2 separate regions of the Homo sapiens genome follow, and region 2 is linked to region 1. Evidence: fine-mapped expression QTL. A gene starts in region 1. The other region holds a variant in brackets. All regions are shown on one strand. Distances are between the middles of the regions. Region 1 holds the start of CRYBG3 (crystallin beta-gamma domain containing 3). Region 2 overlaps CRYBG3 (crystallin beta-gamma domain containing 3).

What was found. PIP is the estimated chance that this variant, and not a neighbour inherited with it, causes the effect. A credible set is the group of variants that fine-mapping cannot tell apart.
Region 2: its variant is the best candidate, but not a certain one, in a credible set for the expression of CRYBG3 in whole blood (INTERVAL, PIP 0.53).

Annotation. Positions count from the first base shown.
Region 1 is chr3:97,817,565-97,826,466 of GRCh38, reverse strand. It overlaps CRYBG3 (crystallin beta-gamma domain containing 3), which reads right to left and starts at 4,456. Exons shown (of 22, transcript NM_153605.4): 1 at 4,112-4,456. The coding sequence starts at 4,260. LOC101929298 (a long non-coding RNA gene) reads left to right here and starts at 4,691. Exons shown (of 3, transcript XR_427389.3): 1 at 4,691-4,780; 2 at 7,964-8,063. RefSeq lists a silencer at 4,310-4,679.
Region 2 is chr3:97,903,559-97,912,460 of GRCh38, reverse strand. CRYBG3 (crystallin beta-gamma domain containing 3) reads right to left here. Exons shown (of 22, transcript NM_153605.4): 16 at 185-294. Among named protein-coding and RNA genes, the nearest start is that of RIOX2, 64 kb to the left of the region's middle. RefSeq lists enhancers at 1,419-2,008, 2,009-2,599. The variant G/A (reference allele first, on the strand shown) is at 3,387.

The sequences.
Region 1 (8,902 bases):
TTTTACAAAACTTGCTATTACCCTTTTTACATATTTTCCGCTGTTATGAGTAAAAAAACTTAAAAATGTTATAACTGTCAATAAAGTTAGAAGTTCTGATTATATAAACTTACTGCAGGTCAATTTGTGGTACCTTTGCAACTTTAACACTTTCAGAGCATACAATTGAGTCCATTTCCAAGGAATGTTCACAGCAAAAAATAGAATTCCCAAATTAGCCATCTGGTAGACACCTTATTGAACCCAAGAGATGGAAATCACTTGGAAAAGGTGGACTTTTGATACCCTACAACAGGCTATATTTTGACTCTGCTGCCAAGAGTAAGCTTTTGCTTTGAATTAACCTAGAGGAGCAGAGGGGGACAAGATTCTCACAAATTACACACCCCTAAAGACTTCTGGAATTCTCTCGTCATCTTCACTACTGAAGGCATGAACTGCTGATGTGACACAGGTATCTCCTATCCAACTAACTAGTTACCAATTATTTTTAGTGCTTCAAATCAATAAAAATGCAATCATCATGACAATTTAGAAAACAAAGCTTCCTTTCCTCACATAACTGATGCTGTTGTCAACACTGGTAGTTTAACCTGAAGGCCAATAGCTCTCCCATGCTGGTCATCAGAAGTACTACTGACATTTCTGACAGTACAGAGTACCTCCTACACCACAGCTCATTAGCAGCCTGGTCCCACCCATTCACCTCCTCTCACGATTTAGGGTAATCACTCTCCACTGGGAGTGGTATCACTCTCCCTCCCACCCACCTGGGTGGAGGAATTTTCAGTTATCCCAATGACCAGAGGATGCTACTGGCAATTAGTGTGTGTAATCATGGATACCAAACATCTTGCAAAGGACAAAAGAGTCCAGTTCAAAGAATTGTTCCATTCAAAACGCCCATAGCATCCATCACTGAGCACTCTCCCAAACTCAGTTTCTTCAATTGTCAGATCGTAAAAGTGGACCAACATTTCACACTGAGTGTGAGATTTACATGATACGTTGCAAGTAAAAGTACCCAGCCCAGAAGTAAGTGCACAGTCAGCCCTTGATAAATACTGTTCTCACCTTACCATCTCTCTTCACAGTTACAAACATTGCACAGAACTCATTTTAAACAGGTCCATCATGCATGATACAGCCAAGAAACAAAGTTGAGCAATCATTTCTTGAAGCAGATAAAGGCAGGAATTCCTCCAAGTTTCATATTTCAGCAATATCTGTATAACAGGCTTTTGCAAAAATTCTCTGAGCCTTAAATCTAGAGCCAAACATTTTGTCTAGAGACCTTTATAACCCAGTTCCAACCTAAATTTCTTACTGCTCCTTTCACTCTGTCCCATTAATGTATATATCCCCTAACAGATCATAAACCCCTTGCAGGCCTTTGCTCAGTCTGGAATGCCTTTTCCCGGAATACCTGTTCCCTATTCTCTCTCTTCCTAAGTTCTCTTTGTATAGAAACATCACCAATTCCTTGAAGACCCAGTTAAAATCATCCCTACCAGGAAGCACTTCCTGGTCTCCCCTATCACTTCTAATGAGTCCATTCCTTGTATGCTTATAAACTGGGCTTAACACTGCACCAGTGATTCTCAAACTGGGATCCACAGAACTCTGGGAGTTTTTGAGTTTCCTATGAAAACTTCAATTGCAGTTTTCCTTTTTATCATCTAAAATAAATTAATATAAGCATTTCCTGGAAATGGTCAACCACCTAATATGAGTACAATCAAGCAATTTGAGTGCCTACGCCTAAGTTGGGATATACAATAGTGTTGATGCTAATAGGCCTTCTTTAATTGTGACAAAGAAAGAATACATAATGAAGTGTTGTCACCAACTGAAGCCCATATAAATCACAGCACACCATAAAAACAAAGATTTTCCTATGGTTCAAAACAGTAAAATATTGGAAGACCTGTATCAAGGCATGGCAGCTCCCCAAAGACCTGGTGTTTGTCCCAGTACGCATTTTGTGAGCAGGCAAAAAAACAGTTTCAGGATGTTGTAAATTCGACTTTTACGGGTCTCATAATTATGTTTTAGTTTATTTTTTAATTTTGTACTCCTCTTCATCTAAAATCATCACTACAGAAGGTATACCCAGCTCTCATAATGATAAAAGTTTTTATGCCCACAAAGAGAAATAGCCAAAATACTCTTTCATTTTGAAATAAGATCACAGTGACAAATTGCAATTCTGTTTCCAATCTTGTTAACATCAGGGTGTTGTGTTACTGGGACATTCAGTACTATAAAGCGGTTCCATTTGTTTTATTAAACTTTCAATAAAGGCTTTGTGTTTGTTTATGCCCTTGAAATGAAAGATTTAAGCTCATTTAAAACAGTAAAACACCCACATAAAGGGTCATCTGCTATCCCCCTAACATCTGGCAAGTTCCAAAAAAGATGAGAACAAAATTAGCGTTGATATAAGCACAATTAAAATCTTCATCGTTGAAAAGCCATAATTTGTGCCAATCTGGAGATGATGAGAATAGAGAAGTGGTAGGTGAACAAGGAACTAGTTGCTGGAGGGGTCAGCTCCAGTCAGTAAAGAAATTAGAATTGAGAAGTGCCTTAAAAAGCCAAAATAGGGCAGAGAGGCAAGCAGGATTTCAGGCCATTACTGACATGAGCCTGAATTTGACCTGCTTACTCCTTTCTAACACTGACTCTCAAGTTCCCAACTTTTGCTGCGCCTACTTGGGATTTCCTTGCAGACTGCGTTCATATTATCCAAGACTGTTAGTGCTGTTACGGCGGTGGCAGGCACCACAGGCTGTCTGCCCACACCAACAGAACTAGCTGACACCCTGGATGAGATCTGTCAGACTTAAAAACTATTTTTAACTTCTGTGTAACTTTGAATTTTAAACTCTCAACAGTCAGAGCAATAATAGCTGAAACGTCCCAGGAGAATAACCACTCAATTATCGTAGGAGCTTTCTTGGAAACATGTGGCATGTTATTAACAGACGGTCATAATGAAAATGTTTCACAAGCGGGGAAACCGAGGAACACACAAACGACTAAAATCACATCACAAAATCTGAATACTAATGGAATTGGCTCACTCTCAGTTCTGTTTCCTATCCATTTTTTTTAAGCCCACCAGGAAATCTTGAGTCCGAAGTAAACACGGTTTTCTGGAGTGTGTCCTTCCAATGACAATGGTCATTCTAGTGCAATCTCGGGAGAAGACAGTGTAAGCCTCTCATAAGTTTAAGAAAGCGAGCTGCGTTTTACTTAACCCCTCTTTCTTCGGGGGGATGAAAAGACTCAGAAACAGGCATTTAAATGAGGCATGTCTAAAATTTTTTGATTTTTGAACATGGGAAAGTGAAGGAAAGATAAAAATATTACAGAGAAAGGGTACATTTTGATTACTGAAACCAAGACAGCTGGAAACCTGATTTCCAGAATCTGTTTGGGAACTTGAGGCAGATGTTTCTAGGAGAGATGAGAAATAAAGAAGGGTGGCGTCATTTACATGTCCAGTCCATTTTGGTGAAAGTCTTGGGAACGCATTATCACAATTCCTTTTAAAAATCATTTTGAGAAAATTTAAATAAGATGGCAAAAATACCAGCTGAGGGGGTGACGCCCCAAAGCTTTACCTTTTCCACTTTTGCCCCGATCTCCTCCCACACAAGTGGTGCTGGGATCGCGCCCCCAATTCCCCTGGCCGACGGCTCCGCTCGGCTCACAAGTGTTTCCCATTACTGCAGGCGGGACGCCGGGGAAATCGCTTTTGCCACAGAACTTGGAGAGTAGAGCGTGTGTGGAACGGGAACCCAATCACGTCCGGGCAGGGGAAAGTGGGAAAGGAAGAGCGCGGAGCCAGGCGGGGATCGGGGGATATGCGTCCGGCTGCCGGGCAAGAACTTCACCCCGATTTAACCTGCAGAGGAGAGGCGAGTAGTGCGGCACGGGAACGGGGCAAGGAGGAGGAAACTTTAGCAATGGAGGAAGGAGAACAGAAAGTGGCGAGCGAACTGCAGCCTGGCCCAAGAGCGGCCCGCTGCCGGCGGTCAGGCCGGGAGCCTTCATCCCGCGAATATGTGCAGGGCCCCCCCGCGACCCCCTCCTCGACTCCCACCTGGCAGCGGACCGGCCTGGAGCTGGAGGCGGGCTCGTCCCCGGCCTCTCCTCCTCTTCCTCTTCCTTGTCCCGGGAAGGACTTCGGGGAGCGAAGAACCGGGAGAAGCTGTGCCAGGGGGCGCTGCCCCTTCTGCGGCCGCTGGACATTTCCCGAGGGGGCCGCTGGCCCGGGGCTGTCTGAAGGGAACGGCCTAGGTGTTGCCTGGTGCCCGGAGCCCGACCGGGCGCCGCGGGATGCGGCTAGGGCAGACCGACTCGACGCGAGCTGCCAGCGCGGCTCAGTCTCTCTCGGGCAGGAGAAGTGCGGACGCGACGCGCTCCTCGCGCGGCAGCTCCTCACGCCGCTGCGGCTGCTCCTCCTCCCGCCCTCGCCCGGCGCGGCCCGCCCCACCCCGAGGAGGAGCCAGTGGCCGCGGCACCGCCCTGAGCCGGGCGCAGCCGCCACCGCTGGGGCGCTACGTGGTCCCCCGAAGGCGCCGGCCTGAGAGCCTGAGGGGAGTCGCCCAGCGTGCGACGCTAGGCTCGGGCTTACGGCTCAAACAAGTTCAGGCTGCAGCCTGTTGGGCTTTGCCTTCAATTACTTTCTGTGACCGTTGTGTTTTCTATTCTACAGTCAGAGCACAGAAACGGTTTTCTTCGGGCTTTTGAAAGAGGTTTATGAACTAAGGTTTGTGAAAACACTTGGCAAACTGCAGTACCGGGGCGCCCCGGACTTGCTGGGAGCTAAGAAACAGCTACCGCAAATACAGCTCCAACCCTGAGGGCGAAAGTCGCGTTAGCACAGAACCGGGCGGCGGGAGGGAGAAGGGGGTACCTGTCAGGCGGTCACCACCTCCCGGCGCGTTCTGCTGGCTTTCTGTGGTGTGACTTTTCCTAACCGCGCTGTGCTTCAGACTTTTCACACGCCATACTTCCCTGCGAACTCTTTCAAAAACGGCACTGATCAAAAAGTATGATTTCAAGCTTGTCAATGCTGCAACATATTTTGCAGTCGTTACACAGATGCCACTGAAATCTGGGAACCAAAGGGTGCTTAAGACTTGTTTTAAGTCTAAGTACAGTGGTATGGATTTTTCTTGGTTTTTCATACCCTATAGCAGCTAGTACAGGAGATACTGAGAGGCCCATTCACCCCAAGTGTTTTGTTTTTGTTTGAAGGCAAGCTGCCCCTGGAGTAGACGTCAAGGAAGTGATATGGCTTTTGTTCATTAAAAAATGTATACAAGTAAATGAGATAAAAATGAAATGTCCACAGCAGAGGGGAGCCTTGGAGTAATCTCCCCTCTGGCTTTCGGGTGCTGGAGGAGAAGGTTGCTCATAAGTAGATTGCATACCTATAAGCCCCAAGTCCTTTCAGCACCTGCTGGAGGCTATTGAGCCTCCCTGCCTCCCCACGCTGCCTCCCAGAAGCCCTCCAGCTCCTACTAACTGCAATAGAGCCAAGACACTCATTCTCATTTGTTCTGGCAGGATTTAACCCATTAAAGTTCAGTCAGCCCGATTTCCATCAATCGGGTTCATCTCAGTCTATCCCTCAAGATTAATCCTTTTTTACTCTTTGGTAAATTTTTCCTATTTCTCTGTGAGCCTAGTCTGAGAAAATAGAAAAAGACTAAGATAATAGACTAGAATAAGACAAGTTCCCAATTCTAGCTTTATTATTTTATAAGAGAATCTCCACTGAAGACCCACTTACCAAAAAGCCCAAAGAGAGTAATAAAGCAAACTGTTTCTTCCAGCTAAAAGGCCCAAATGATAATTTGTCTTCCCAACGTATTATTGAATGACTATCACATTTGTCCCTGACTTGTTCTGTGATCAAACCAGGCCCCAGTGCCTACCCAGAGGGTACTTCGTTCAGGAAGTTTTTCTTGGAATAAAAATGGGGGGGAGTCAATAGGATTTAATTAATGAATTATGGTTTTAACTAATAATATATCTAACAATACTCTGATCTCCACTCGGTAGCACAGCAAAGCACTTAAGTGAATGGTAAATACAAATAATGCCATGTTTACACTAAGACAAATTGCGTCTATGACAAAATAGCTTAAAGTCATAAAACAATGACCATTGAATTTTCCTTCATTTGCTTTCTGAGCACTTATTAGTTTTCTATATGTCCTACATTGTTATAACCTGAACTCATATGAACAAATTTCTAAATACTAAATTCTAAGATTGCATTAGGAAGCCTGTAAAAATGTCAAATTTTAGAGCTGTAAGGATCTTAGAGATACTAATTTAGCACAGTGTCATTAATTCACTGATCCAGTTATTCCCCGACGTTTAGTGAGTGCCTGCAGTAGAAGCACATCTACAGTGAAGCCGATGAGGCTCAAGTTTCTTGGCTCCCTGCTGGCACAGTCTCTTCCAGTGTGAACTCAGCAATGGGATCCATGGCCAGTTTTATCAAATTTACAAAAGTAAATGTTTTAATGTGATTAAGACCACAATCTCTTTTTTTTTCCACTTAGATGTCCACTTAGATTTTCTTTTCCACTTAGAGTTATCAAGAGCATTTGGGAATCTGCTAGGGAATTTCAGTTGGGAATATATTTAGTTTGGACTTAGTGGAATATATTTATGTGGTTTCCAGCCTCTCCAAAGTATAGTTATTTCTTAAATTCCAATTTGTTTGTAGCGCAGCTCACCAAGTATTACACCCAAGATGCAGAGCCAGAGGAGATATATTCTGTGGTCTCTGACACTGAAAATATGTGGGTAATAGAGGTGAGACAAGATTTGAAAGGTAAAGCAGCATCAGGTGTCATGTGGAAAATTATTCCAGGCATCAGAAGACAAAGTTTCAACAGGAAGGATTGCCTCCGATTGATGTAATTTCTCTCATAGCAATAATATATTCAATAATGCAGTATATTTAATTTTTTTTTTGAGACAGAGTCTGGCGCTGTCACCTTGGCTGGGGTGCAGTGGTGCAATTTCAACTCACTGAAACCTCCGCCTCCTGGGTTCAAGCAATTCTCCTGTCTCAGCCTCCAGAGTGGCTGGGACTACAGGCGCCCACCACCATGCCCAGCTAATTTTTGTATTTTCAGTAGAGACGGGGTTTGACCATATTGGTCAGGCTGGTCTCGAACTCCTGACCTCAGGTAATCCACCCGTCTCAGCCACCCAAAATAATTTTTATAACTGTAAACACAAAACATTTTTTCTTGTTGATGTAAACCATGTAAAATAGAATTTATCAGAATTCTTGTTTGTAGGGTACAAACCTGTAGCAGTACCACAAGCTTTGTGTGTGTGTGTGTAGTACTGCATGTTTACACAGCCTTTCTATCAATAAGAAAAACAGAACTAGAGGAAAGATTGCATTATCTTTTCATTATTATGGAAAATAATATTACTAAATTATTGTCATATGAAAGGCTATTGAAGAGTACACTGCCAAAAATATAGGAAAAAAAGTGATTGTGCAAGGCATTTAGTAAGAAAACAAATTGTTTTTCTAGTCAACCTTTTAAAATTAGTAATTTGCATGGTTTATGTTTTCATTCAATATATTCATTTTTATATCTAATTTTCTTTTAAATCCTTTTTCTTTAAAGAGGACCCTCCAAATTGTAAAAACTTCAGATCCCACAAAACCTGGATATGTCCTCTAGTGCATACTATGTGTCAGATACATGCTCATTCTTAGACATAGAGATACGGTGATAGATAAGACCAAATGCTTAACATCAAGGAGCAAGTTTAATTGGGCAAGATGAGCAAATGGGGTAAGATGGGAAACATAGGACGGATCCCCAACTTAATCTGAAGGGTTCCTGGAAGGCTCACTAGAGGAGATAACTGTTAATATGCTCTCTTCTTCTCTGCCTCCTTTTAGCACCTGATTTCCACCTATAATACTGTAATTCAATAACTTGTGTGATATATGAGAAATCCTGAAGTTCATCACACTGTAACTGAATTGCCATTCCCACAACGTAAGTACCATTCTCAAAGGTATGAGAATAGAATGAAAGTGTTGATCCTTGAAGCATTTAAACTGCAAGAGTAGTTTAGTAATGCTAAGCGTTTTTGTTCTGAAAAGTCCACCAGGGAATAAGCTTCTGTATATATCTTAGAGCACAGTATTTACTGTGTGGCAGGTGGCCCAGGAATATTAAGACAGCTGTCAACATCAAGGAAAGCACCAGCCCATGAAAAAGCAAGCAGATGGATTGGGGCACTTCACTAGCTGCCTCCTAGAATAATAGCTGTGCGTGGCCAAATGAGGCAGTGTCATGCGGCCCAGGGCAGCAAAAAGCTATTACTGAATATAAGCACTCAATTAGGAGGTGGGGTGGGGGGAATATCTTCTCTTTTCCTTTGTTTATATGCTCAAATTTTCATTAAGAACTCCCACAGCAAATAAAAAAGGGGAAAAATGATGTTAGCATTTCTCATTGTTACTTTCTAATTATCATGGTTTGTAACATGGGGAAATGCCTGTCTTGCTGCTTCAATGAGAACAGATGGTAAAATTTTTAAGTAATTGGTTATTCCAACTTCTATGAGATGCATGATGTTTTATTGTATTGTTTGTCTGGTTTTTGTTTGCGGAACATGTGGAGATTGAGATCTTTCGAACACACATCTTTTAATGCTTAAATTAAGTAAAATGTGTTAGTCTGACCTAAACTACATTTACACTTTTCTCCCTTTGATATGATGATACTTCAAAGAGAAATTAGTCCTTTACAAAAATATAACATTAACATTAAAAATTAAATATATAGCTTTCAAACAGCACAAAATTTGCTAATATTGAAACGTACTTTTA
Region 2 (8,902 bases), 86 kb before region 1:
TTTCTGTATTCCATCACAGCTCAAAATACAAATTAAGCAAAATTAATATAGACCAGTTAGCAGGTAAAATGCCTGTTGAAGATAAATTTTAAGGATTCACTGTGCATGCAAAAAATATATCTCTGTAAATTTAAAAGTATTAGTTATTAAATAACAGCAGAAACCACTAAGTAAGCATACTTACCAACCTCGAAGAACTTTAAAAGAACATGGCATGAGTGAAGTCAAATCAGAAGTTTCTTCTGTAAAATCTATACATTCACCTTGGAACCCTGGTTTGCTGAATGCTTTGAGCTACAAGAACAACAACACAACAGTTAAATAGAAAAAAAATGGTCTTAGATGATCACGAGCAAATAAAAACCTTTAATTTCATGAATTTATAAAATGCAGCAAAATATCAGACTCATGTTTTATCTATTATCAATGAATTCATGTTAGGGATAATGATATGCTCCTTAAACTTGCTTTCTTACATGTATTCAGGAATGGAATGTCACTGTTTGTTTACCATTTTCTTGCCTCTCTTCCACCAAATTGTGGGAAGAGAGGCCTAGAAATCAATTCTACCTAGAAGAGTACATCAGAGTCCTCCCTCCACTAACATGTGGTCCTTTATTCTCTCAAAAAATCATTATGCCCTATGTTGAGACTAGATGTATAAAATAAGAAGCAATTTAGTGCTAAACCTGAAAGAGGCTTAGATTAGTATGAGGCTACATGGTATGCTGCTTCTCTCCCTAGCTCTTCCTGATCCACAGTTAATATAAGAAGAGGAGAGCACGAGCACATGCCCTTAAGCAAGCACTAAGAGTGCCCAGGAGGGCACAGAAGCAGATGGCAGAGGAGATAATAATGACGGGATTAGTGGAAGATTTCTGGTGAAGAAAGAAAGATATCTGTGTTATGTATTTCAGCTTACAGGCTTCGGTTTTCTGATAAGAATACCTTAAATGTGCAGCTTACAGTTATATACAACTACATGTCTACTTTAGTCAATTTTGTCAAGAAAAATCCATGAAATCTCAACTATAATTCCCTTTAGACCAGATATATAATAATCTGCAACTCTAGTAGCCTTGAATCTACAATAGGAATGAAAAAAATTAAAGAGCCCGTAAAAATTTCATAACACACTGGAGACTTGGAACAACATGGCCCACAGGTCCACCCTGCACTGACAGGCCTGCACTAGGGCACAGAACATCACAACAAACCATCTGCTCATGCTGTCATCGAGGATAAGGCTTTTCTGAGCAGCTAATGTTCACCTCCCTCGTCTTCCCAAAGGCCTCTACTTAGAATTGTTTCTTGGTTATCTCATTCTGCTCTGACCTTACTTGATCTGTTATCAAAGATCAGTCAAAATCAGGGAGGTGAGAAAACTACTTCCCCATATCATCTGTGGCTTGCACAACACCACTTCCTACTGTGAAACCACACTGTATTTGGAGGATTAAAACATCAAGGGACTTCTTGCCTTAAGGAGATGTGATCCAGCAAGTTTCTGCTGTAGTCCTAGCAGATATAGAGGATAGCAAAGAAATGAAGTCCAAACCAAGACATACTTAGGTTTTTTAACTTAAAGATGTATAAAATGTGAGGCTAAAAAGCAAATCACTTTTAACCTCCAAAAAATGCAGAGACATTTCTCCTGCATAGAAATATCTTTAAAAAAATAAAAGAAGGGGGAGGAGCCAAGATGGCCGAATAGGAACAGCTCCGGTCTACAGCTCCCAGCGTGAGTGACGCAGAAGACGGTGATTTCTGCATTTCCATCTGAGGTACCGGGTTCACCTCACTAGGGAGTGCCAGACAGTGGGCCCAGGTCATGGGTGCGTGCACCGTGCGCGAACCGAAGCAGGGAGAGGCATTGCCTCACTTGGGAAGCGCAAGGGGTCAGGGAGTTCCCTTTCTGAGTCAAAGAAAGGGGTGACGGACAGCACCTGGAAAATCGGTTCACTCCCACCCTAATACTGCACTTTTCCGGCGGGCTTAAAAAACGGTACACCACGAGATTATATCCTGCACCTGGCTCGGAGGGTCCTACGCCCACAGAGTCTCGCTGATTGCTAGCACAGCAGTCTGAGAACAAACTGCAAGGCGGCAGCCAGGCTGGGGGAGGGGTGCCCGCCATTGCCCAGGCTTGATTAGGTAAACAAAGCAGCCAGGAAGCTCGAACTGGGTGGAGCCCACCACAGCTCAAGGAGGCCTGCCTGCCTCTGTAGGCTCCACCTCTGGGGGCAGGGCACAGACAAACAAAAAGACAGCAGTAACCTCTGCAGACTTAAATGTCCCTGTCTGACAGCTTTGAAGAGAGCAGTGGTTCTCTCAGCACGCAGCTGGAGATCTGAGAACGGGCAGACTGCCTCCTCAAGTGGGTCCCTGACCCCTGACCCCTGAGCAGCCTAACTGGGAGGCACCCCCAGGCAGGGGCACACTGACACCTCACACGGCAGGGTATTCCAACAGACCTGCAGCTGAGGGTCCTGTCTGTTAGAAGGAAAACTAACAAACAGAAAGGACATCCACACCAAAAACCCATCTGTACATCACCATCATCAAAGACCAAAAGTAGATAAAACCACAAAGATGGGGAAAAAACAGAACAGAAAAACTGGAAACTCTAAAAAGCAGAGCGCCTCTCCTCCTCCAAAGGAACGCAGTTCCTCACCAGCAACGGAACAAAGCTGGATGGAGAATGACTTTGACGAGCTGAGAGAAGAAGGCTTCAGACGATCAAATTACTCTGAGCTACGGGAGGACATTCAAACTGAAGGCAAAGAAGTTGAAAACTTTGAAAAAAATTTAGAAGAATGTATAACTAGAATAACCAATACAGAGAAGTGCTTAAAGGAGCTGATGGAGCTGAAAACCAAGGCTCGAGAACTACGTGAAGAATGCAGAAGCCTCAGGAGCCAATGCAATCAACTGGAAGAAAGGGTATCAGCGATGGAAGATGAAATGAATGAAATGAAGCGAGAAGGGAAGTTTAGAGAAAAAAGAATAAAAAGAAATGAGCAAAGCCTCCAAGAAATATGGGACTATGTGAAAAGACCAAATCTATGTCTGATTGGTGTACCTGAAAGTGATGGGGAGAATGGAACCAAGTTGGAAAACACTCTGCAGGATATTATCCAGGAGAACTTCCCCAATCTAGCAAGGCAGGCCAACGTTCAGATTCAGGAAATACAGAGAACGCCACAAAGATACTCCTTGAGAAGAGCAACTCCAAGACACATAATTGTCAGATTCACCAAAGTTGAAATGAAGGAAAAAATGTTAAGGGCAGCCAGAGAGAAAGGTCGGGTTACCCTCAAAGGGAAGCCCATCAGACTAACAGAGGATCTCTCGGCAGAAACCCTACAAGCCAGAGGGGAGTGGGG[G/A]CCAATATTCAACATTCTTAAAGAAAAGAATTTTCAACCCAGAATTTCATATCCAGCCAAACTAAGCTTCATAAGTGAAGGAGAAATAAAATACTTTACAGACAAGCATATGCTGAGAGATTTTGTCACCACCAGGCCTGCCCTAAAAGAGCTCCTGAAGGAAGCGCTAAACATGGAAAGGAACAACCAGTACCAGCCGCTGCAAAATCATGCCAAAATGTAACGACCATCCAGACTAGGAAGAAACTGCATCAACTAATGAGCAAAATAACCAGCTAACATCATAATGACAGGATCAAGTTCACACATAACAATATTAACTTTAAATATAAATGGACTAAATGCTCCAATTAAAAGACACAGACTGGCAAATTGGATAAAGAGTCAAGACCCATCAGTGTGCTGTATTCAGGAAACCCATCTCATGTGCAGAGACACACATAGGCTCAAAATAAAAGGATGGAGGAAGATCTATGAAGCAAATGGAAAACAAAAAAAGGCAGGGGTTGCAATCCTAGTCTCTGATAAAACAGACTTTAAACCAACAAAGATCAAAAAAGACAAAGAAGGCCAATACATAATGGTAAGGGGATCAATTCAACAAGAAGAGCTAACTGTCCTAAATATATATGCACCCAATACAGGAGCACCAAGATTCATAAAGCAAGTCCTGAGTGACCTAAAAAGAGACTTAGACTCCCACATATTAATAATGGGAGACTTTAACACCCCACTGTCAACATTAGACAGATCAACGAGACTGAAAGTCAACAAGGATACCCAGGAATTGAACTCAGCTCTGCACCAAGCGGACCTAATAGACATCTACAGAACTCTCCACCCCAAATCAACAGAATATACATTTTTTTCAGCACCACAACACACCTATTCCAAAATTGACCACATACTTGGAAGTAAAGCTCTCCTCAGCAAATGTAAAAGAATAGAAATAATAACAAACTATCTCTCAGACCACAGTGCAATCAAACTAGACCTCAGGATTAGGAATCTCACTCAAAACCTCTCAACTACATGGAAACTGAACAACCTGCTCCTGAATGACTACTGGGTACATAACAAAATGAAGGCAGAAATAAAGATGTTCTTTGAAACCAACGGGAACAAAGACACAACATACCAGAATCTCTGGGACGCATTCAAAGCAGTGTGTAGAGGGAAATTTATAGCACTAAATGCCCACAAGAGAAAGCAGGAAAGATCCAAAATTGACACCCTAACATCACAATTAAAAGAACTAGAAAAGCAAGAGCAAACACATTCAAAAGCTAGCAGAAGGCAAGAAATAACTAAAATCACAGCAGAACTGAAGGAAATAGAGACACAAAACACCCTTCAAAAAATTAATGAATCCAGGAGCTGGTTTTTTGAAAGGATCAACAAAATTGATAGACCGCTAGCAAGACTAATAAAGAAAAAAAGAGAGAAGAATCAAATAGACGCAATAAAAAATGATAAAGGGGATATCACCACCGATCCCACAGAAATACAAACTACCATCAGAGAATACTACAAACACCTCTACGCAAATAAACTAGAAAATCTAGAAGAAATGGATAAATTCCTTGACACATACACTCTCCCAAGACTAAACCAGGAAGAAGTTGAATCTCTGAATAGACCAATAACAGGATCTGAAATTGTGGCAATAATCAATAGATTACCAACCAAAAAGAGTCCAGGACCAGATGGATTCACAGCCGAATTCTACCAGAGGTACAAGGAGGAACTGGTACCAATCCTTTTGAAACTATTCCAATCAATAGAAAAAGAGGGAATCCTCCCTAACTCATTTTATGAGGGCAGCATCATTCTGATACCAAAGCCAGGCAGAGACACAATAAAAAAAGAGAATTTTAGACCAATATCCTTGATGAACATTGATGCAAAAATCCTCAATAAAATACTGGCAAACCGAATCCAGCAGCACATCAAAAAGATTATCCACCATGATCAAGTGGGCTTCATCCCTGGGATGCAAGGCTGTTTCAATATATGCAAATCAATAAATGTAATCCAGCATATAAACAGAGCCAAAGACAAAAACCACATGATTATCTCAATAGATGCAGAAAAAGCCTTTGACAAAATTCAACAACCCTTCATGCTAAAAACTCTCAATAAATTAGGTATTGATGGGACGTATTTCAAAATAATAAGAGCTATCTATGACAAACCCACAGCCAATATCATACTGAATGGGCAAAAACTGGAAGCATTCCCTTTGAAAACTGGCACATGACAGGGATGCCCTCTCTCACCACTCCTATTCAACACAGTGTTGGAAGTTCTGGCCAGGGCAATTAGGCAGGAGAAGGAAATAAAGGGTATTCAGTTAGGAAAAGAGGAAGTCAAATTGTCCCTGTTTGCAGATGACATGATTGTATATCTAGAAAACCCCATTGTCTCAGCCCAAAATCTCCTTAAGCTGATAAGCAACTTCAGCAAAGTCTCAGGATACAAAATCAATGTACAAAAATCACAAGCATTCTTATACACCAACAACAGACAAACAGAGAACCAAATCATGAGTGAACTCCCATTCACAATTGCTTCAAAGAGAATAAAATACCTAGGAATCCAACTTACAAGGGATGTGAAGGACCTCTTCAAGGAGAACTACAAACCACTGCTCAAGGAAATAAAAGAGGATACAAACAAATGGAAGAACATTCCATGCTCATGGGTAGGAAGAATCAATATCGTGAAAATGGCCATACTGCCCAAGGTAATTTACAGATTCAATGCCATCCCCATCAAGCTACCAATGCCTTTCTTCACAGAATTGGAAAAAACTACTTTAAAGTTCATATGGAACCAAAAAAGAGCCCGCATTGCGAAGTCAATCCTAAGCCAAAAGAACAAAGCTGGAGGCATCACACTACCTGACTTCAAACGATACTACAAGGCTACAGTAACCAAAACAGTATGGTACTGGTACCAAAACAGAGATATAGATCAATGGAACAGAACAGAGCCCTCAGAAATAACGCCGCATATCTACAACTATCTGATCTTTGACAAACCTGAGAAAAACAAGCAATGGGGAAAGGATTCCCTATTTAATAAATGGTGCTGGGAAAACTGGCTAGCCATATGCAGAAAGCTGAAACTGGATCCCTTCCTTATACCTTATACAAAAATCAATTCAAGATGGATTAAAGACTTAAACGTTAGACCTAAAACCATAAAAACCCTAGAAGAAAACCTAGGCAATACCATTCAGGACATAGGCATGGGCAAGGACTTCATGTCTAAAACACCAAAAGCAATGGCAATAAAAGCCAAAATTGACAAATGGGATCTAATTAAACTAAAGAGCTTCTGCACAGCAAAAGAAACTACCATCAGAGTGAACAGGCAACCTACAAAATGGGAGAAAATTTTCACAACCTACTCATCTGACAAAGGGCTAATATCCAGAATCTACAATGAACTCAAACAAATTTACAAGAAAAAAGCAAACAACCCCATCAAAAAGTGGGCAAAGGACTTGAACAGACACTTCTCAAAAGAAGACATTTATGCAGCCAAAACACACATGAAAAAATGCTCATCATCACTGGCCATCAGAGAAATGCAAATCAAAACCACAATGAGATACCATCTCACACCAGTTAGAATGGCAATCATTAAAAAGTCAGGAAACAACAGGTGCTGGAGAGGATGTGAAGAAATAGGAACACTTTTACACTGTTGGTGGGACTGTAAACTAGTTCAACCATTGTGGAAGTCAGTGTGGCGATTCCTCAGGGATCTAGAACTGGAAATATCATTTGACCCAGCCATCCCATTACTGGGTATATACCCAAAGGACTATAAATCATGCTGCTATAAAGACACATGCACACGTATATTTATTGCGGCATTATTCACAATAGCAAAGACTTGGAACCAACCCAAATGTCCAACAATGATAGACTGGATTAAGAAAATGTGTCACATATATACCACGGAATACTATGCAGCCATAAAAAATGATGAGTTCATGTCCTTTGTAGGGACATGGATGAAATTGGAAATCATCATTCTCAGTAAACTATACTATCGCAAGAACAAAAAACCAAACACCGCATATTCTCACTCATAGGTGGGAACTGAACAATGAGATCACATGGACACAGGAAGGGGAATATCACACTCTGGGGACTGTCATGGGGTGGGGGGAGGGTGGAGGGATAGCATTGGGAGATATACCTAATGCTAGATGACGAGTTAGTGGGTGCAGTGCACCAGCATGGCACATGTATACATATGTAACTAACCTGCACAAGGTGCACATGTACCCTAAAACTTAAAGTATAATAATAATAAAAAAAAGATTATAAAAAAAAGACTCAGAAACTTAAAAAAAAATAAAAATAAAAAAATAAAAAATAAAAAAAATAAAAATAAAAGAAAAGCCGCATGAGAAGAGAGACAGGTTGTCTTGTTCACTAACTACATTCCCAGTTTGTTTATTAGTTGTATACTGCTGAGCTGAAGATTTATACTTCAACATTTTCACAATGAAGCCATGAAACATCAAATCCTGGACTACTGATACTGCCAGTGAAGCATATTTCAGATGGTATATACAGTAGCCACCTCCAGTTTTTTGTCTCAGTCTTCATACCCGGAAAAATCAATTAAAATTCATATACACACGCAGAAATAATGTTATAAAGTATCTCTTGATTTGATGGGTTAAAATAATCTTTGTCCAAACTTTAAAAACTGGGTTAAATGCTTATCTGAGTTGACTAGATGAGATATGGTATATGATTCACCCAGAATTAGACCAATTCTACAAAAATATGCCTCACTTTGATCACCTTATCAATCCTCAAAATAGAACAATTCTCATAATAATGTTCTGAGGATTGTCCATAGAGAAACCAACTCTGAGCTTGCTGATTATAATAATTAACTTGTGGTTTCTACTGTTGGTGAAATTAAGGACAGAGCCTTGGAGAAATTCAGTCCTTGGAAAAACTAGCTGGATAAATGACCATGTTGGCTACCTTTACAGAACAATCGATAACAAATATACAAAACAACTCAGGTTGCTTAAAACCGAGGCAAATTGACAAATAAGAGATGAGTGTTTTCCAGACTACACCCATCCTTCTGTGCCATGTTGGTACGGCTCAATCCCTAACAGCTCCCCAACTGGAAATGGAAGCGAAGGAAAAAAAGTATTCCTCTGGTTTGCTTTTCACATGTATTATTGTATTTCTTTCTTAGAACTACCAGTATTGAGCAGAAATTATCTCCACTATATTATGAAGATTTTACAGAAATTCTTTTTGCTACATAATTTTCACTTATATACTAACAATATGTGGTAATATATATCTTTAATATGACAAACTAAAAATGCAATGAACTACTGACAAAACACAGCTGTGCTCACTTATTCTACAATATCAGCATTATTTTTAATGTAATTTTAGTTACTCCAATACTAAAATAGTTTCTATGAGAAACTTTCTTCCCTGTCTAAATAAGACTTTCTC